3 separate regions of the Homo sapiens genome follow, and all the other regions are linked to region 1. The links come from fine-mapping of genetic effects on gene expression. A gene starts in region 1. Each other region holds a variant in brackets. All regions are shown on one strand. Distances are between the middles of the regions.

Region 1 (8,250 bases):
TTATGATAGTGGGGTATGGCTGGAGTGCTTAAATCAGACACACGAAGCACAAACCTGAAAGGACGGGATCGTTTACATGATTATTTACACAAAATAAATTTCTGCCAGATAAAAATAGGAAAGTCAAAGTTGAAAGATAAGACACAGTCTGGGAAAAGATATTTGCCATGCATATAATACAAAAGATGACTCACACTGAAGCCTGTAGGAGGCATGCAGACCTGGATGCTATCGCAGAAATTCTAGTTCCCTATTAGGAATATTAGGTGAGAAGGTGTAGATCTACAACTAATGGGCCAAGAAGGGCACATAACCCCTGGTTACATTATCTAAGACAAGTAAGATCTTTATATGGTAGAAAAAAAAGTCAAAGTTCCAGATTTGGAGGCTGACTTCCTGGTTAGCTTTAGTTACCTCTGGTCTCCATCTCAAACTTGATGCAGCTAATGCCAATCTGACTGTAGCGCTTCCTCCAAAACAAACATCTCTCTTTCTCTCTCTCTCACACACACACACACAGAGTAAGGCATATTTTTGCTTGTTCCATTCCTTTGGCCTATCACATTTCTGCCCCTCTTCCTTGCCCGGCTACATACAGATTAGCTTTCCTGTATCTCCCTCTCCTTAGGCTGAGCCTCCTCAAGCCCACTTCTTTTTTTATTTATTTTTTCTTTTTTTCTTGAGACAAGGTCTCACTCTGTTACCCAGGCTGGAGTGCAGTGGCATGATCTCAGCTCACTGCAACCTCCACCTCCCAGACTCAAGCAATCCTCCCACCTTAGCCTCCCAAGTAGCTGGACCACAGACGTGTGCTACCATGCCCAGCTAAATTTCTATATTTTTGATAGAGATGGGTTTTCACCATGTTGCCCAGGCTGCCTCAAACTCCCAACTCAGCCTCTCAAAGTGTTGGGATTACAGGCGTGAACCCCCTTGCCCAGCCATCAGGCCCACTTCTTAATGGAGGCACTAACATGGTTAGGCTTTGTGTCCCCACCCAAATCTCATCTTGAATTGTAATCCCCATAATCCCCATGTGTTGAGAGAGAGACCTAGTAGGAAGTGATTGGATCAAGGAGGTGGTCCCCCATGCTGTCCTCACCATAGTGAGTGAGCTCTCACGAGATCTGATGGTTTTATAACTGACAGTTCCTCCTTCACACTCTTGCCCTCTCTTGCCTGTTGCCATGTAAGACTTGCCTCTTCCCTTTCCGCCATGATTGTAAATTTCCTGAGGCCTCCCCAGCCATGCAGAACCGTGAGTCAATTAAACCTCTTTCCTTTATAAATTACCCAGTCTTGAGCAGTTCTTTATAGCAGTGTGAAAATGGACTAATACAGGCACTATACCACACTGTATTATAATGCCTGCTTCCTTGTTTGTTCCCCACCTCACTACAGGCTGTGAGTATCTCCAAGGTCAGGTCAGGCCTGGGTCCTACTTACCTCTTTTTCTTTTTTTTTTTTTTTGAGACGGAGTCTTGCTCTGTCACCCAGGCTGGAGTGCAGTGTCGCTATCTCAGCTCACTGCAAGCTCCGCCTCCCGGGCTCACGCCATTCTCCTGCCTCAGCCTCCCTAGAAGCTGGGACTACAGGCGCCCGCCACCATGCCTGGGTAATTTTTTGTATTTTTAGTAGAGACGGGGTTTCAACATGTTAGCCATGATGGTCTTGATCTCCTGACCTCGTGATCCGCCCGCCTCGGCCTCCCAAAGTGCTGGGATTACAGGCGTGAGCCTGTACTTATCTCTTTATCCTGCATCTCACACAGGACCTGGCCTACTGAAGGAAGAGTCTCAATGATTGTTAATTGAACTAACCCAACCCATGAACAAAATGCCACAGGAGCACTTCATGCAGTGGGTGAAGAAAGAAGAAGCAAGTATCAGAAATAGTTTCACAGGGTAGGTGACATTAAAGCTGGATCTTGAAAGATGAGAAGTTGGCCTGGTGTGGTGGTTCATGCCTGTAATCCCAGCACTTTGGGAGGCCGAAGCAGACGGATCACTTGAGGTCATGAGTTCAAGACTAGGCTGTCCAACACGGCGAAATCCTGTCTCTACTAAAAATATAAAAATTAGCCAGGTGTGGTGGCATGTGCCTGTAGTCCCAGCTACAAAGACTACAGCTTGGGAGGCTGAGGCACAAGAACTGCTTGAACCCAGGAGGCAGAGGTTGCAGTGAGCCAAGATCCCACCACTGCACTCCAGCCTGGGTGACAGAGTGAGACTCTGTCTCAAAAAATAAAAAATAAAATAAAAAGTGACTAGGGCAATGCTGTATCATCTCACTTTATTTTAAATAAAAGAAAAATGAGAAGTTGTAAAAGATAAACTGCAACAACAAGCTACAGGGGATCTGACTAGTGTCCACGGATTGCTTCACAGAGGTAATGAAATATCATCTGATGTTATTGCTATTTAGTGATATTTATTTTCTTTTTAGTAATAATTTAGTTATTTAGTGATAATTATTTTCTTTTCTTTCTGATCTCGGCTCACTGCAACCTCCGCCTCCCCGGTTCAAGCAATTCTCCTGCCTCAGCCTCCCAAGTAGCTGGGATTACAGGTGCCCGCTACCACGCCCGGCTCATTTTTGTATTTTTAGTAGAGACGGGGTTTCACCATGTTGGCCAGGCTGGTCTTTAACTCCTGACCTCAGGTGATCCGCCTGCCTTGGCGGGGATTACAACCATGAGCCCCCACGCCCGGCCGAGATAATTATTTTCACATGAATTTTGGCTTCCCCAAGACAAGTTTTTGTCTGTTTTATTCAGGGATATATCCCTGGTGACTAGAATAGTGCCTGTTACATAGTAAGAAACTCAAAAATATTTGTTTAATTCTTTAGACGCTTATGGGGGATATATAGGAATTAAAAAACAATACAACGTAATAGAGCATGGTATAATACAATACTGCTATTTGATAACTCTGTCATGGAGTAGTAGTTCCACCAGAGTAGCAACCAGGTCTATCTTGATCCCCTGTATCCGTTAGTACAATATTGGTGCTCAATATACATTTGTGAAAAAAATTAATTAAAATACAACGTAATAGAGCATGGTATAATACAATACTGCTATTTGATAACTCTGTCATGGAGTAGTAGTCCACCAGAGTAGCAACCAGGTCTATCTTGATCCCCTGTATCCGTTAGTACAATATTGGTGCTCAATATACATTTGTGAAAAAAATAATTAAAATCTAGAATACTATTACATCCTAAAACCGTAAAAGCAGAGTGTCAGAAGGGATATATATTGGTTTTGATTTTTTTTAAATGCCGGCTTGAAAACCGAGTTCAGATACATGCTATCTGGCTTTGGGTAGGTTCTTTAGTTTCCTCCTCATCTAACAGGGCTGTTGTGGGACTCAGTGAGAGAGAGGATGGCTGGAAGTGCACATAGGATACTGCCTGGCAGACTGTAGGCACTCAGTAAACGCGAGTTCTCCGTTAACACGAAAACATTACAAACAGCTAAAATGACAGCTGCTTGAGAGAATAATCGGTAAGTGCCACAACCGGGCTAGAAAAGGATGAAGGACAAGCTCCTGCCCACTCCTTTGGAAACTCCACACCTGGGCCGGAGAAAGACTCGAATTCGAAAACTAAGTTTCAGTCGCACCTGCCTCCGGCGTCGCTTCAGCCTCCGAGGGGTCTGCGGAGGCGACGTCCCAGTCAGGAGGGATGCGCGCCTGCGAGCCCCCCGGGGATCTCGGAGCCGCTCCACTGCGGTGCCTGCCGCTATCTTCCCCACGCCTTAGTAACTGCGACGCGACGGCAGACAGTGTAGGCGGCAACCGACGGCCGGGACGTCTAACCTCAAGTCCCAGCAAGCCCCGCGGCCACGTCCTCTGACTACCTCGCGCCAGCAAGACCCAAACTACGGATCCCGATTGACTCCGCGCGGCGCGTCACGCTGTCAGCTCCAGCCAATCGGCTTCAGACAAGTCGGAGGGGAGGGAGACGCAGAGGCGGACAAGATGGCGGCGGCAGCTGTACAGGGCGGGAGAAGCGGTGGTAGCGGAGGCTGTAGTGGGGCTGGTGGTGCTTCCAACTGCGGGACAGGAAGTGGCCGTAGCGGCTTGTTGGATAAGGTGAGGAGCCGGTTCTTGGGAACAGTTGAATCCTGGGGAGGCCTGGGAGGCGGCGAGCCAACCTTCCCATCCCGGTCTCCCTTATTTTCTACGGCCTTTTGAGGGGAGCCCTTGTGTGACCACTATCACAACCCTACGCACGCTTGGAGCCTGCCCTTGCCCTCATCACACTTCAAACCTGGACCCGGTCCTCTTTAGAACTTCTTCTTTTCTCGCAAGTGTTCTGGTCCTGGTCGCCACACCTTTTTCGGTAATTTGATTTTTCCTATATTTAATCGTGTCCATCTCTTTTCTCCTGGGGGGCTGGGTGCACTGTTGTCAGTGCCCATTTCACAGACACGGAAAACCGAAGCCCAAAGATTAAAGAATCAGTATCCCCCAAACTCTCTACCACCATCACCCTTGCGTGCTGCTACAGATTCCAAAGTGCTTCTTGTCCTTTTGCTTACTGAAGTTTTTAGGCGTTTTATCATGATAGGCGAATACTGAAAATATTTGAGTATTGACTGTTCTACTGGGCTGACAAGAAGCCTTTAAGATTTTTCTTTTTTTCCTGTTGTTTTTCCCCGCCCTCTCCTCTCTTCCCTCCACCTCCCTCTTTGCTACCAAGTGCACTGCTGCCCGCTCACGCTTGCCCCTTTCCTCCCTCTGCTCATCCAAAAAAATTTTTTTTAACTGCAGTCCTAGCAACAAGGGTTTAAAAGAAAAGAAAAAAAGGAAAACTGTCCCTGGGTTGGCCTTTCTTGCTCTTTGCACAGCATCTTGGAAGAAACAGTTGCACGGAGAACAACGTCCTGGTGTTGATTTTGCCTCTAATTAGCTTTGTGACCTTGAAATATGCTTGCTCTCTCTATATCTGTTTTCTCATCTGCAAAGTGAGAGATTTAGCCTTAAAATGAGGGACTTAACTCTAAATTCCCTTCCAGTTCTCTCATTGTAGGGCCCTGGGCTGGTTTGATGAGAATTGTTAAGCATGGTGTCTTTAATATAGTAAGCAGAATTTTTGAATATAATTGAAAACAGCTTTCAGACTTCCCTGTGCATAACACATGGTAGGTGCTTAAGAAATGAAAACATGATTATGTTGAGGGGTTAAGATCCAGGTCTTTTTACTTGTCTTTTTGAGTGTCATTGGTTTTGAAAGACATGGTTCTCACACTCTTCTCTTGTGAGAGGGGTCACGCTCCATTGCCCAGAATGGATCTTAGCTCACTGCGGCCTTGAACTCTTAAGCTTAGGTGATCTTCCCACCCCAGCTTCCTGAGTAGCTGGGACTGCAAATGTGCACCACTATGCCTGACTAATTTTTTTGCTTTTAACTTTTCTGTAGAGTCAGGGTCTTACTGTGTTGCCCTGGCTGGTCTCAAATTCCTGGGCCTCAAGAGATCCTCCCACCTTGGCTCCCCAAAGTGCTGGGATTACAGGCATAAGTCACCATGCACCTGGCCTCACACTCAAACCTTAAGATACAGAAACATATTCTGGAGGTTGGGATGGTAAATTGCTTCAAGACATGTGAGAGTATGGGGAATTGATGGTCATTTGTGTACACAAATCCTTCCCTCTTGCTAGGTAAGCACCTCATAGCCTGTGCTTACCTGCCCCACTAACTGCTCTTGCTCTTCCTTGCACTTGGATCATCATCAGCAAACATTAAGTATGGGCATTCTGCTAAGGCAGTATAGAATACTATTATTATGGAATAGTGTATATGGCACCATTGTGTTATTGAAAGAACCCGGATGTGGGGATCATAAGATTTCAGCTTTGAAGTATTTCTGCTACTTGCTAACAGTATGAAGATTGGCAAGTCACTTAACCTTTCTTCATTTGGAATTTTGGAATCTCTGGCACCTAGATCACAGGGTTTTGGGAAGAACCAAGTAAGACAGTACACATTAATGATCTCCATTACCTGTAGTGTCCAGTACAGATGTGTGATGGTGGAGGAGTAAATCAAGAATCCTACTGTCAGAGAGCACTCAGAATAGCCAAATATAGGAGATGGGGTAATTGAATCTATTTAAGGAAGTATATGGTATATTCGCTCAAGTGTGTACTTGTTACGGAAGTTCAAATGAGAGAAATAGAGTGAACCCTGCGAGCTTATTGATAAGAGTAAGAGCCTCGGCCGGGCGCAGTGGCTCACACCTGTAAACCCAGCACTTTGAGAGGCCAAGGCAGGCGGATCACCTGAGGTCGGAAGTTCAAGACCAGCCAGACCAAGATGGAGAAACCCCATCTCTACTAAAAATACAAAATTAGCGAAGTGTGGTGGTGCATGCCTGTAATCCCACCTACTCGGGAGGCTGAGGCAGGAGAATCGCTTGAACCCGGGAGGTGGAGGTTGCAGTGAGCCGAGATCACGCCATTGCAGTCCAGCCTGGGCAACAAGAGGGAAACTCTGTCTCAAAAAAAAAAAAAAAAAAAGAGTAAGAGCCTGAAGGAAAGGCCTCATTCCTGAAAGTGGAACTGGCACCTTATTTGGGGGGAGAAAAGAAAGACATGCCAGGTAAAAAAGTCTCCTTGAGTAAAGTTACACAGATGTGATGGTGTTTTATGTTTCTCAGGTATTGAGTTGACTAGAAGGCTCTCTAAAGGAACTGTAGTGACAAGTAGATAGCATCTGATTAGGGAGGCCGTGGATTGCTTGAAGTAGAGGAAAGCTGTTGAAGGGTTTTGAGACTGTGTAAAGTGGTTTTTAGGAAAACTATTCAGATGGTTTGGAGAGACAGAAATTAGAAGACTTCTTAATAAGGCCGTATACACAGTAGTGTATAATATATAATAAAAAGAGACAAATTTGAGTTCTAGTGCCGCATGTTATTAGGTTGGTGCAAAAGTAATTGCTGTTTTTGCCATTGAAAGTAATGGCAAAAACCACGATAACTTTTGCACCTACCTAATAAAAGCCACATGACCTTGGATAAGTTGTGTGATATTACTGAATTTAAATTTCCTTATGTAAATATTGTGGACATTCATACATATTATAGGCTTGTTGTAAGGATCAAATTGTATAGTGCTGGTAAATGTTCTTTGGGTTTTTTAGTTTGGTTTCCTCTGCCCTTTTTATTTTATTTTTATTTTTATTTTTGGTAGAGACAAGGTCTCACTGTGTTGCCCAGACTAATCGTGAACTCCTGGCCTCAAGTGATCTGCCCACCTCAGCCTCCCAAAGTACTGGAATTACAGGCATGAGCCACCGCACCCAGCTCTGTTCCCTGTCCTTTGGAATCTACTAGAAGTAAATGTTCTTTGTAAAGGGCTGTCTGTGGTAAAAAATAGAATGACAAGGTGATGAGAACCCCAACATGAGTAGCAGAAATAGATAAAAGGTCTCACAAAAGAGTGCTTGGAAGATTTAACCAATAAGTGAGGGACAGAAGAGAATAGTCAAGAGCTGCTTGAGTGCCTTTTCTTGGAAAACTTAGTTTCAGCCTTACATTGAACTGTTCCCTCCCTGAATTCCTCTAGCACTTACACTGCACATGGGAATTAAGCTGTCACTTAATATGACATACTGTCTTGTATTATTTCACCAATTTGTATTTGCCCGTTTTCCTGTGAGTGCTTCTCTGTAGTGATCAACACAAGATAAGTACTTTTAGCATTGAATTTCGCAGAGAAAAAACTTGAGATCTGCCACCTCAGTCTTCAGAAACAGCTTTAGAGGATGGTGCCTCTAATTGTTTGAAGACTGAGGGTACTGTGGGAGAGAACTTGGGGAAAAAAATGTTATTCTCAGTGGAGCAGGATCTGAATGAATAGAGAGGCTTTTGCTGTGTGGGAATGAGAAGCTATTACCTTTAATATAATTTTTTTTTTTTTTTGAGACAGAGTCTCGATTTGTCGCAATCTCCACTCACTGCAACCCCCGCCTCCCAGGTTCAAACAATTCTCCTGCCTCAGTCTCCCGAGTAGCTGGGATTACAGGCATGTGCCTCCATACCCGGCTAATTTTTGTATATTTAGTAGAGACAGGGTTTCACCATGTTGGCCAGGCTGGTCTCAAACTCCTGACCTCAGGTGATCCAACGGCCTCGGCCTCCCAAAGTGCGGGGTTTACAAGCGTGCGCCACCACACCCAGCCTAATATAATTTATTTAATTTGATGTGTCTTGATTTGGGCGGGGAGGGTTTTTATTTT
Region 2 (8,250 bases), 110 kb before region 1:
CCAAAAATAAGTAAATATATCAGTTAAGATTATGCCTTTACAAAAGTTAATTTACATTCTCTGTTTAAAAAATAATATTTGGTGAATGCTATATAGTTGACAGAGCACATTTACAGACCTTATTAATTTAGTCTTTCCAAGAGACCTCTCATGTAACTGGCATTAGCCCCATTTTTAGATGATGAAACTGCAGTGCAGATGTTCTGGTTCTCTCAACTACCAAGTGGCATAACCCATGGATTTTCTAAAGGTTTCCCAAATAGATCACAACCTAAGGGTGTGCCAGGGGAGCCTAGGGGAAGCTAGGCTGGGCATTGAACACTGATAGTGCAGAATCCACATGCAAACAAGATCGACAGGGTGGATAAACATATATGTGCATTATCCCCATCCCCCACAGTTTAGAGCCTTCTGCTTTTCTGGGGGTTTCAGCCTATGAGACAAACTATAATCAGGCTTCATTATTACTTTTCAAATGGCCAAGGGTTATCTGCAATGTTGATCTAAAATCCTAAAAAATCACCCTGAAGTCAGGCAAGGAACAATACTTAAACTCCATACTATGGAAACAAGGTATCTAGCTGGATGCAGCTGGTAAATTCAGTCCCATGGACCTTTGGGGGTTTATTTTCCTTAGCAGCTGACACCATGTGTCTTTTGCATCCCTGGTGGTGCTTGGTGCTTCTGCCCATCTGGGCTCATTGAGAATAGGGATGAAGATATGATTTTAGGGAATTTCTGATGGGCTGGCATGCCCCATGTAGTATGAGTTACTATATAAAGTCATGTGACTGGCATTTTAACAGACCTTCCAGAGCTTATATATCCCAATATATGTTGTTTCCTTTGAGTAGCCCCAGCAGGATACTGCTTAGTTTTTCCAGTGCCATTGGTGAAAGCATTTCTGGAACTGTCTTCAAAGACTAGAAACACTGACTCCCAAAATGCTAGAACTGGAAGGGACCTTAATGGTTATCTATTCCAGCCTCCTCCTAAGGTCCTCCTCAGCTTCTAGACCTAGAAGCCAAAGTCCAGAACAGTGACCCATTGATCAAGGCAGATAGTATAACTCCTTTTAAGTGTTCTCAGATTTGCCTTTTCTCAGGGCAAATCTTCAGTGTTTTGTGGTTATTTGTGGTTGAGAGAGAGAGAGAATGTAATGTCTGAGACTAGCCAGCAGCTATTTGAAGCCTCTGGGAAAGAAGGTGGCTTATCAAGTGGGTTTGTAGTAATGAGTGCTGCTGTAAAGCAGAGCCATTTTCTTGTGCAGCTCATAGTTCCCAAACAGTTCCCAAACAGAAATTCCAGAGATGTCTTAAACATTGTGGTCATCATTGAGATAGGTGGAATCTCTTTGGTGACTACGTTGGTGGGGAACATCACTCACCTGAATGTATGCATTCTGTGTTCTCTGTGTGTGTGCACATATGCAGATGTATGTTTTAAAAACATTTACCAAACTCATGATTTTGTAGTCACACCACTTCAGTTCTGGGCCCTACCAACAATTTATGTCCTCCAAGAGCTGCTGGAGGGCATGTTTGTGCCCAAAACAGAAGAGCTGGCTCTGGTTTACAGAAGACAGGGAGGGTGACCTTACTATAAATGCCCTTAGAGGAAACTTATCAGTTACTGCCATTTCACGCATTTCCTTTTTGATCTTAGTAAATATTATTGGAAGGCTAGTCTTGTTGGTAGGAGCAAAGACACTTATTTTTCCACTTGCCATCTTTCTCTATATCTCCAGTAATTTGAAAAACACTTTTCAGTTGGAATTGATTTTTGTCTTTGGTAAAAAGAAATATTTTTAATAGATAAAAGATATATATTTTAAATATTTCCCCAAATTAATACTTTCATTTTAAGAATTGCATAGCAGTTGTAACAAGTGCAGAATGAAGAACAAATTCTTGTTAAGCAAATAGTCCAAACTCTAGGTCCAGCTTACTGCCTTCCCCCCTTGTACCTACAGTGATGCCTAGGATGGTATTGACAGTTGTTTTCTAAACTTCCTGCTGAGCAACAGTCCTTCAAATATAGGTAGAGTGGTCTAGGTTAAGGAGGGAGGAGGGTTGATCTTTAATCAGGTTGGCTTTGGAGGAAGGAAAAACCACTAAGGTATTATCTGAATTTTAAGATGCTTCCCATCCTTAATAACTAAAACCTGAATGCTTTTCTTTCTGAAAAATCTCCCTCTCTCCTTCCATGATTCTGAAGTTGGTTAAAAGTCGATATGTTGATGTGTATTATTTGGGGGAACAGAAAAGGACAAGGAAGGAAACAGAACGATGGGAAGGGTTTGTGAGCTAGAATAAGAGGTGCAGGATTTCACAAAACAAATTCCTCACAAATCATTGAAGCCCAGTTCACCATACAAATTACCCATGTCTTACTCTGTTCCTTGTATATATGCATTCTGGGTTTTTTTATTATTAAAGGGGAAGTTAGGGGGGAGGGTGAAGGTCAGTCTGAGGGGAAATCCAGGAAATGTGGTGCCCTTAGAAGGGGGCTGTCAGCTCTTTTCCATAGAGAGGGAAAGAAACTTTGAGAAAATGTTCTTGACCCATTGATTGTATCTGCTGGAAGAAGTCATCTGGGCCTGTTGGGTTGGTATCAGATCAGGGGATTATGCATCCAGCCCCTGGCCCCTTTAATCTATTTGCCTCTTTTTAAAAAAGGTTAAGTCTTCTTGGGTGAGGCTTGCCAGGGAAACTCCTAAGTGGCTTCACTTATTTTTTAAATTTTAATTTAATTTTTAAATTTTTGCTTGGAAGCAGCACTGGTAATAAATGTTTTATTTTTTGTTCATTTTCCCTAAAGGAAAAATGTCCTTAAGAGATTAAAGCTCTTAATTGATTACTGTCTGGTTACAAACTGGCAAACTGACTAAAATGGGAAGCTGCCACCGTGCCTGACTCATGTAGCTGATGACCGAAGGCTCATCCTTTCTTTTCTATTTGACAGACATTTACTGAGCTTCAGACTTGAGCCAACCCTGAGCTGGACTGTGGAGATAAAGCAGTTCCTGCTCTTGAGGAGCTCAATGTCTAATGGAATGCATTTGAATGTATGTGTGGCTGGAGAGTTCATTTATGGTCTTAGGAAAGCCATTTCTGGTCCCATTTAGAAAACTGACCAGCACCCAGCAAGCTGCATTCTACATTTTAGAGACCCCATTGGTATTTGTGAATTTGATTGCACCACCGCTTTTCCTTTACTAAGTAATGTTATGGAAGGAGAATGAATTTTCTCCTCTAGTGATTACAGGACATTAACATCTCTTCAGAAGCTGCTTTTAGCTTAAGCCCCAAGAAGTGAGGTGGGTTGTGGATCACTGACATGGTCAGGGGAGGCCCACACCTCAATTCAGTAACCACCTAATCTCTCCCCCAACCTGATCTCTCATCAGAGCTGGCAGCAACTTGGGATTCCTTTCCTTTTTCCTGCCTAACTTTTCATTGAAATGTCTAGTAGGAGAGTGAGAAAAGAGAACAAAGGCTGGGTCACAGTCATAGAATGTTACAGCTGGAATGGGCATGGAAATCATCCAAGTTAAACTTCTTCTCTGCCCCCCGCCCCCA[CT/C]TTTTTTTTTTTTTTTTTTTAACCAAACGAACTTGTGATCCAGTGCCCTATTTTATAGTGTGGTTTTCCAGGGTCTGAATAAATAATCATTAAAGTTTGACACACGCAGACACACGCACCAATGATGGGGATACCCCCAAATGATTTAGGAGGTTATTTTATTTTAATAGTTTTTTCTTCCTGATTTTTTTCAGTTAGTTAGAGTTAAATGTACCTATAGCCCCTGAATACATGCTCAGGTAGAGAAAGTCTCCATAGTATAAGTAAGTAATATGAATGTGGAATCTTGGAAAGTGATATATTTTGATTGGAATAATTTTAATTAAATTTAATGATTTTAATTAAGAATTAAAAGCCAGCTAGCCAAATTTTCTTTAAAAATTGGAAACTCATTATGGTCTTAAATTGTCCTCAGGCAGCCTTTTCCTCATCAACCCATAGAGTGGTCTTTTGAACTGGTATCTAAACATACCTGGTTATGAATTCTCAAAAGAGAAAGCAGGTCTGGGGCGGGGTGGTCAGGAGACAGATTCTAGGGAAAGTGCTGAAGAGATTTTCTTCTGAAGATGATCTAGGAAATGCATCTTTATACATGATTGTTAGCTGCTGTAGCTTTCTGAAGAAGATTGTAGAAAAGAGACTAAGATATATGCAAGGGTCACCAGTTTAGAGATCAGTCAAATTGGAAAAAGTGCCAAGACTGGATGTGCAGATTGTTCTATGTATTATCAGTATTTTTTTCCTCTTAAGAAAAAAATTTACTCTCTCTCCTTTGTGAGTAAATGCCTCCTTAATGCCTTTTAAGTAAGGTGGCAACTTTTAACTGTCATCTTGTGAGAGGCAACCTCAAACTCTAAGCAGACTCCCTCTCTCCCTTTCTGGTGTCTTAAATCAAGAACTAGTTTGAAGCCAAGGCAAAGCAAGGTTTGTTCATCTTCCTTTCCTGTCATTTAAGGTAAAACAGGCAATGAACTCGCTCTTCAAATACCATAGTTCAAGAGTAGCTGTTGGCCCTGGTTCCAGATTAATATAGCAGCAGGCAGATTGCCCCTTCTTGGGGCCACCACCCTCCAAAGCTGTGCCACCAATGAGAGCATTGGGTTCAAGTTTGCATCAAACATGGTATTACCAACGCTGAGCCTCCAGCAGAGCACTTAAAAGTCCTAGTGAGAGAATAGATACTATGCAAGGGAAAAAAATTTAAATGCCAACGAATAGTTTTTTTTTTTTTGAACCTGATACACTGTTTGTTTACTCTCAACTCTTTGTACAAATATTATTGTCCTAAGGGCCTTTTCCCCTCCTGCCTAGAAAATAGGTTGTGTATTGGTTTTATTCAACCTGCTGTCTGCTTTAGGATTGGAGAAGGTACCTGGATCCTTGTGGACTGCCACTGCTGGCTGCCTCCTCTCCAACTCATCAGAAGAGCATTTTGACAAAGACAGAGGACTTGGACCAGGGCATGCCCTGTTGGGGATGTTTCTGTCAGCAAGGACATGGCATGGAATCAAGTGGGCTGATGTGTTGTTATTTAAACAGTACCAAAGTGCATTCTTCAATGTATGTTTGCCTGCTTGAAGCAAGGCCCAAGTTGAGAATACAGTAAAGGAAACTCATGAAAGTGGATGTTCTGTTTATAGTCAGAGTCTTGTCTCTGGTGAACAATCTCAGACAAAAACATGGGTTAAGCTTAGGCTGTGTGTGGATTTTTGGTGCTGTATGTGCTCTGGGAGATGCCCCATGTTGGATGTCTTGCTTTGGCATTCAGAATGGCAGTAGAGATTAGGAGCAGGGATGGGGTTTCCATGGTGTACAACTACGTCTTTTGGCATAAGTTATGTCCAGTTTACAGTTTGCTCCAATTTACTGTCATGTTCACATTCAACCATTCATGCTCCTAATGAAGGAACCAAGAAAGAGTCTGAGTAAAGAACGAATATACAGGATGACACTGTCCCTGCACATTAGGGCTGTACTCACAAGATCTGGTTTTTAAAAATACCCTTTTTTGGAGCCATTGTTCAGGAATTTGTTAAGATCCCCTTGGTGTCAGTTTCTCATACAACAGAGAACAAATGTATCCCTGTTGCATCTGAACTGGAAAACCATTTTTAGAGGGAAGTGTGACAATGCTGCTGTGGCCTGGGTTCCAAGAAAGAATGCATGTGGCACCCAGTCTATTGCCCTGTGCACCCACTCTTTATTGCCGCTGGGCCAGGCACCAGGTCATGCCTGGGCCAAGGAGGGGAGATCCTGACAAGGGGATGCCACCTTGTGGCCAGCAAGTGGGGCCCAGCTGAGCTCTGAGGCCTGTGGCCGGCTGGTCAACCTTGAGGTGCGGTCCAGGGCACAGAGCCCTCGGGGAGAGCTGGGGCACAGGCCGGGTGGTGCACACAGCCCCCATGCACAGCTCTAGCCTTGTGAGTCACTGGCTGTGGGCTCCTGGCAGAACTCATCCATGAACTCGAGGAAGTGGCCGAACTTGGGCTGGCTCTCACTCAGCGCTGGGCAGGCCATGGGGAGCGGGGTAGTCCCGAACACTGTGCGCAGAGAGCCACTCACCAGCTGCCGGTAACGTGCCTGGAACTCCTTCAACAGCCTCTTGGCCTCCAGGTACTGCTTGTGGTTCACCAGCCGCCGTTCTGTCCACTGGTGCAGGACAGCACCTGCAGGAAAAGAAGCCAGGAGAGGCACCAAGCTCATCCTGGTTCTCACCTAGCCAGAAGCAAGAGGATTGGGTCCAGAGACCCTTGGAAAATGGGATGGTGTGGCAGGAGGATGCTAAGGGGCTAAAAATGGCCTTTCCAGCTTGGGAAGTCACTGACTTCCTACTGCCCCTATGCATTGACTCTATCTTAAGCCCTGGTTCAGGACCTTAACATGCTGTGTGATTTTAGGCAACTCCCTGCCTCACGCTGGCTCTCCTTTTGTCCATCTACATGTAGAGACTGATGTAGGCAGTTGCTCTCTAAGGGCCTTTCCTGCACTGACACAAGCCCTTTCTTTGCCTTTAGCCAGCAGGCGTGAACTGGATCTGGGATCCTGGCAGCTGTGGCAGAGCCGTACCTAGTGGAGCCTCTGTAATGTTCCGGGGATCCCGCAAGCGAATGAAGATGTCATCCAGAAGTTGGGCTCTAGTCTTCTTTGGGGGTGGAATCGGGATTCTCTGGGCCTGGCAGAAGGTCATGGAGGAGGGTGTTATCCCAGGTTTATGCACAGACTTCCCTGGCCTAACTTCATACAGTCACAGCAACAGGCTGGGGGGCATCTGGGGGTGCTGGGAAAGCATGGCCCTCAGAGGGTCCCAAGGTGACAGCCACATCTGTAATTGTGGGCGGTACTCAGGGGCCATTTACACATTCAGTGAGCTGGATGTTTACCCGTTTCTCTTTGTGAACATAGGGTTTCTGAAGAGTGTCCAGCTTGGGCTTGGAGGAGTGGCACAGGAGTGGGTGCTTCAGCATTTGTTGCAGGGCTTGTGCATTCTTCTGGATTCCTAGGGCAAGAAGGCAAGACTGAGTCAAGGCACTTCCCCCTCCTCCTCCCAGATGCCTCCCCTGATTGCTTCATTCCTCAGTCTCACAGCAGCTCTAGGTAAAAGGATTTGAGAGTCCCCAAAAGAAAACACTGCCCCCAGGTTTCTTCCGGATCTGTTCCAGTGCCTGAAGTTCCATCATTCTTCAGTGAGTATTTGTCCCATATTATAATGGAAAAATAGCACAGATTGTAATGGGTAAATAGTATTGGAGTGGGGGAAAAGGCTGGCTCCAATGTGACCCCATTAACCTCAGGGGGTTATATCGCAGGGGCTAACACCCAGAACAGCCCAGCTGAATGCCAGTTGCTTTGGAAGTACTGATTAACACAGAGATGAAGCTGCCTCCTTTGCCTCCAACCAGATAGGAACGATTTTGGACGTTCAGTTTGGGAACTTAACCTGGGCTGGGAAAAGCTCAAGAATCTGGCCATTCTGGGTGTTCATTCATCACACTTTTCCTGAGGAGAGACTTTATCATCCAGAGCAGCTAGGCTGAGACCAACTAGAATCTCTGAATAAACTGTGGCTCCCCATAAGCCAGTGAAGGCCTAGGCCAGGACAGGGGTCCCAATATGTGGGGCTTCAAACAAAGGACACCCTAAAAGGAGCCCTTTGACAGGTATTTAGACAGAGGACAGCACCCTAGTTGGGAAAAGACAGCTTGGTGCCAGCCTTGGCTTGACCCTGACTTGCTCTGAGCTGTGGAGATGGCCTCTTGCCCTAGAGCAAGGATATGCCCTCACATACCCTTTGGCTCAATGAAGGCTGGATCAGGCTTGGCTGTCAGCAGTTCTTCATAGCCGTGGTACTTGCTGGGAAGGAAGGCAGTTGGGAGTTTCCTCCGAGTCCCTTTCACCTCTCTGGGTGCCGTTGGTGGTTTCTTTTGGTCTTTCTCCTTTAACTCTAAATCATCCTTATGGATGACGGAGGAAGGCAGTTCACTCACCTGTGCCCAGGAAGAAAACGCATTCATTTGTCACTCATTCATTCATTCATTCCATGAACATTCGGAGTATCATCTCTGTGCTGGTCTCTGCTGGGCCCTGTTAAGGGCAAGGGTAAGACCAAGACTGGGATGGAAGAAAGCAGATATAAAAATAGACAATTGATAAATGCTTTAACAGAGGGAA
Region 3 (5,000 bases), 180 kb before region 1:
CCTCCCGAGTAGCTGGGACTACAGGCACGGGCCACCACGTCTGGATAATTCTTTTTTATTTTTATTTTTATTTATTTTTTGAGATGGAGTCTCGCTCTGTCGCCCAGGCTGGAGTGCAGTGGCGCGATCTTGGCTCACTGCAACCTCCGCCTCCTGGGTTCACGCCATTCTCCTGCCTCAGCCTCCCGAATAGCTTGGACTACAGGTGCCCGCCACCATACTTGGCTAATTTTTTGTATTTTTTTTTTTTTAGTAGAGACGGGGTTTCACCGTGTTAGCCAGGATGGTCTCAATCTCCTGACCTCGTGATCCGCCCACTTCGGCCTCCCCATTCTTTTTTATTTTTTAAAAATAGAGATGGGGTTTCAGTATGTTGCCAGGGCAGGTCTTGAACTCCTGGCTTCAGGATATCCCCCTGCCTTGGCCTGTCCAAGGTCTTGAGATTACAGGTGTGAGCCACTGTGCCCAGCCACTGTCTTTGCTTTTTAAGTGGAATTTATCAATAAGGATGATTAGTGGCCAAGAATAGTCAAGACCATTTTGAAGAACACGATGGGTGGATTTGCTTTCTCAAATATCAAGCTGTTTAAAGCCATGTTAATTAAGACAGTGAAGTATTGGTATCAGGGTGGTTGAATAATTAATGTTAAAATTAAAGAGCATAGAAACATGCCCTCATATATTTAAATTTGGTGGATAATGAGTGGCCATTACAAATCACTAGGGTAAAGGTGTCATTTTTACTTTTCATGGGTGGTTAGCTAACCTTAGAGAAAAAAATAGATCTTTAGCACCATATGCAAAAAATTATTTGTAGAGCCAGGCATGGTGGCTCACGCCTGTAATCCCAGCACTTCAGGAGGCTGAGGTGGGCGGATCACTCAAGGTCAGGAGTTTGCGACCAGCCTGGCCAACATGGGGAAACCCCGTCTCTACTGAAAATACAAAAATTAGTCAGGCGTGATGGCGCATGCCTGTAGTCCCAGCTACTCAGGATGCTGAGACAGGAGATTCGCTTTAACCTGGGAAGCGGTGGCTGTAGTGAGCTGAGATCACGCCACTGCACTGCAGTCTGGGTGACAGAGCTAGACTCTGTCTTAAAAAAAAAAAAAAAAGGTTGTAAATGGATTAAAGGTCAAACTGTAAAACTTAGAAAATGCTAGGACTATCTCTATGAAAATGGAGTAGAGAAAGGCTTTCAAACAAACAAAAAATGTAAAGATTGATAATTTGACCACATTAAAGTTAAAAATTGGGCCAGGCGTGGTGGCTCATGCCTATAATCCCAGGACTTTGGGAGGTTGAGGTGAGAGGATTGCTTGAGGCCAGGAGTTCAACACCAGCCTGGGCAACATAGGGAGACCTTGTCTCTACAAAAAAATATAAAAATTTAGGCAGGCATGGTGGGGTGTGCCTGTAGACCCAGCTATTCAGGAGGCTGAGGTGGAAGAATACTTTGAGTCCAGGAGTTTCGGGCTGCAGTGAGTGCTCTAGCCTGGGTGACAGAAGCGAGACCCTGCCTCAAAAGAAACAAAACAAAACAAACACACCAGAAACAGAAAAAGAGATTAAGTAAGAAGACCAACCAGAGGCTGGGAGAAGATAGTTGCAGTGAAGTAACTGACAAAAGATTGATATCCAACATATATGAACTACAAATCATTATGATGACAGATAGCTTATTAGAAAAATGGTGAGAAGATTTGAATAGGCATTTCATAGAAGAAGGAAACTGAAAGTCTGGTAAACATCTAGAATGATACGCAACAGCATTAGCAATCAGGGAAATGCAAATTAAACCAGTGATATGCCATCAGACTGCTATAATTTGTAATTGATTAATTATAAATAATGAGCACCTATATACTGCTGGAGGAGTATAAGTTGCCATACAACCACGTTGGAGAGCAGTTTGGCCATATCTAGTAAGGTTGAAGAGATAGATTCCTTGCTATGCAGAGATTCCATTAATAGGTGTGTGCCATAGTGAAACTCTTGTGTACATATGCACACACACAATGATGCTCACATTACAGCACTGTAGTACTAGAAAATGTAGTAACAGTTGTCTTTGATAGGAGAAGGGATAAATTAGTTTCTACAGCTGTTAGAATGAATGAACTGGGTATATATCAACATGGATAAATCTGGAAAAAATACTTGCAAAAGGAAAAGTTGCAAAAGAATATGTATCCTTTGATGCCATTTATATAAGTAAAAGTACGGAAGATAGGAGTCATTTCAATAGCTTGAGTGAGAAATGAAGAAACAATCAGCCAATGTAGACTCTACTCTCCTTGTACCCCCCAACAAGGTCTCCCTCTGACATCCAGGCTGGAGTTCAGTGATGAAATCATGGCACATTACAGCCTCTACTTTTCAGGCTGAAGCGATCCTCCCACCTCCAAAGTAACTGGGACTACAGGCATGTGCCACCGTGCCCAACTAATTTTTTGTATTTTTAGTACTATACAGGGTCTCACCATGTTGCCCAGGTTGGTCTTGAACTCCTGGGTTCAAGCAATCCTCCTGCCTCAGTCTCTCAAAGTGCTGGGATTACAGGTGTGAGCCACCATACCTGGCTTTAGACTACTGTTTCACAGTTTGATAATGAAAGGAAGGAAATAGAGTGCATGAAAAAGGGAAAGTACAATTGTAAGAACCAAGAGCAGAACAGATTTTACTCAGAATTTGAGTTCAGGGTACTCTTGGAGAGCCCATTCCTGGGCCTTGGGCAGAACTTGAGAGTCTAAGCGATAGCCATCGTATTT[C/A]TTTTTTGATGTATACTGCAGGAACAGTAAGCTGCCAGTTTGCTTATAAATTGCCACTAGCTTTTCAAGGGGCTGGAAATATTTATCTCATCTTGGTAGAAAGCAGGTTATGGATATAAGAATTATAATTCATAGGAGAAGGTAGAGGCCAGGCTTAGTATTACTGAGGCCATTTGTTCATTTTAGCTGTAGATATGAAAGATATCCCCCAAACTGTTAAATTGTGGGGATACATGGTTACTGACATCTAAACATATCTACCAGTAGCTCGCTATTTTTTTCAAAATAATGGCTCGCAGTTCCTCCATGAATAATGTACATGAGTATGTTTATTTCCTGTGTTACACAGTACTTGGCATACGTTTAGCCTCTTGGCTAGTGTGTTTTCATTAGATAAATGACTAGGAAGAACAGAATTCTATAATAAATGAATTAAATCAGTATGTTTTCACCTTACAGTTGCAGGTTTCTCTTACCCATTGTTTCTTCCTGTTTTTGCACGTTACCACATGCATTTTTCGTTTTGTTTTGTTTTTGTTTTTTTTGAGATGGAGTCTTGCTCTGTTGCTTAGGCTGGAGTGCAGTGGCACGATCTCAGCTCACTACAACCTCTGCCTCCTGGGTTCAAGGGATTCTCCTGCCTCAGCCTCCCGAGTAGCTGGGATTACAGGCCAGTGCCCCCATGTCTGGCTAATTTTTTTTATTTTTAGTAGAGACAGGGTTTCACCGTGTTGGCCAGGCTGGTCCCGAACTCTTGACCTCAGGTGATCCCCCCCGCCTCGACCTCTCAAAGTGCTGGGATTACAGGCGTGAACCACCGTGCCTGGCCTCCATGTGCATTTTTGATACTTAGTCATACTAACATTAAGGTTACTGGTTGGGGAAATACTAGTTGTAGTAATTTTTTTTGCCATCACTTAAAGTAGATTTGGGCTAGTTTTATATAGTCTTGGACTTGGCTTGCTTTTGAGTCTTTGGCTCTGTCTACTACCGATTGAACATCCCTAATTGAAAATCTGAAATCGAAAATGTGCCAAAAATCTGAAACTATAAGTGCTGACATGACATGACAAGTGGAAAATTCTACATATAAGTACTTAACACAGACTTTGTTTTATGCACAAAACTATTTTAATTATTAACTGGTCGCTATTATGGCTTGTGCCTGTAATCCCAGCTACTCTGGAGGCTGAGGTGGGATGATCACTTGAGGCCAGGAGTTCAATACCAGCCTGGGCAATATAAGGAGACCCTTGTCTCTACAAAAGTAAAAAAATTAGCCAGGTATGTTGGTGCACACCTATAGTCCCAGCTACTCAGGAGGCTGAGGTGGGAGGATTGCTTGAGCCCAGGAGTTTGGGGCTGCAGAGAGCTATGATTGCATCACTAAACTCTAACCTGGGTGACAGGGCAAGACTTTGTCTCCAAAAAAAATAAAATATACAAAATTACCTCCAGGCTGTGTATATAAGGTATATATGGTACATAAATGGGCTGGGCATGGTGGCTCATGCCTATGATCCCAATACTTTGGGAGGCCGAGGTAGGAGGATTGCTTGAGGCCAGGGGTTCGAGACCAGCTTGGACAACATCAAGACCTTCTCTCTATAAAATAATTTAAAACAAAAAACATAAATCAATTTCGTATTTAGACTTGGTTTCCATCCTTAAGATAATTAATTATGTATATACAAATACTAAAAAATCCAAAGACAGTCCGAAACACTGATGGTCCCCAACATTTCAGATAAGGGATACTCATTCTGTATTCAGCATTGTGGAAAATGCTTTGATGTATAAACTAGTCTGGAAAATATAGAAAGTTTTAACTTTCTTGATGTAATTTGAATTAGTTCTATGAATGATTCCTTTGCCTGATCTAAGGGAAAAATTGGTCTTTTTTAAAAAAATCACTTTTATTTATGCAGGTCATGTATGTCAGGGAAGGGGAGTGAATTTGAAATCAGAAAATCTGGATTTGAATCTCAGTTCTGCCACCTTTGTCTCATTGACCGTGACAAAGCTGCTTAATTAACGTCCTTGAGAGGTTTCTGTTTTCTGGTCTGTAAAAAGTAAATACTACAACCACACAGGGTTATTATAAGGCTTAAATAAGAATATGTGTGGAAACCCCTAGCACAGTACTTGGCACTTAATCCTTCAGTAAATGTTAATTTACTACTAGGGATGCTGGTTTTTTTTTTTTTTTTTTTTTACTTTTATGTATTG

What was found. PIP is the estimated chance that this variant, and not a neighbour inherited with it, causes the effect.
Region 2: its variant is the best candidate, but not a certain one, in a credible set for the expression of XRRA1 in whole blood (INTERVAL, PIP 0.85).
Region 3: its variant is the best candidate, but not a certain one, in a credible set for the expression of XRRA1 in liver (GTEx, PIP 0.79).

What each region holds. Positions count from the first base shown.
Region 1 is chr11:74,945,300-74,953,549 of GRCh38, forward strand. It overlaps XRRA1 (X-ray radiation resistance associated 1), which reads right to left and starts at 3,792. Exons shown (of 19, transcript NM_001378157.1): 1 at 3,629-3,792. It overlaps SPCS2 (signal peptidase complex subunit 2), which reads left to right and starts at 3,967. Exons shown (of 5, transcript NM_014752.3): 1 at 3,967-4,100. The coding sequence starts at 3,987. RefSeq lists enhancers at 3,160-4,014, 3,512-3,561, 3,682-3,741, 3,872-4,091, 4,015-4,869 and 1 more.
Region 2 is chr11:74,837,206-74,845,455 of GRCh38, forward strand. RNF169 (ring finger protein 169) reads left to right here. Exons shown (of 6, transcript NM_001098638.2): 6 at 1-5,208. XRRA1 (X-ray radiation resistance associated 1) reads right to left here. Exons shown (of 19, transcript NM_001378157.1): 16 at 7,868-8,066; 17 at 6,963-7,078; 18 at 6,649-6,754; 19 at 3,705-6,248. The coding sequence ends at 5,995. Among named protein-coding and RNA genes, the nearest start is that of RNF169, 92 kb to the left of the region's middle. RefSeq lists an enhancer at 6,648-7,847. The variant CT/C (reference allele first, on the strand shown) is at 3,582.
Region 3 is chr11:74,767,508-74,772,507 of GRCh38, forward strand. All of the region lies in intron 1 of RNF169 (ring finger protein 169), which reads left to right. Among named protein-coding and RNA genes, the nearest start is that of RNF169, 21 kb to the left of the region's middle. RefSeq lists a silencer at 911-1,000. The variant C/A (reference allele first, on the strand shown) is at 2,772.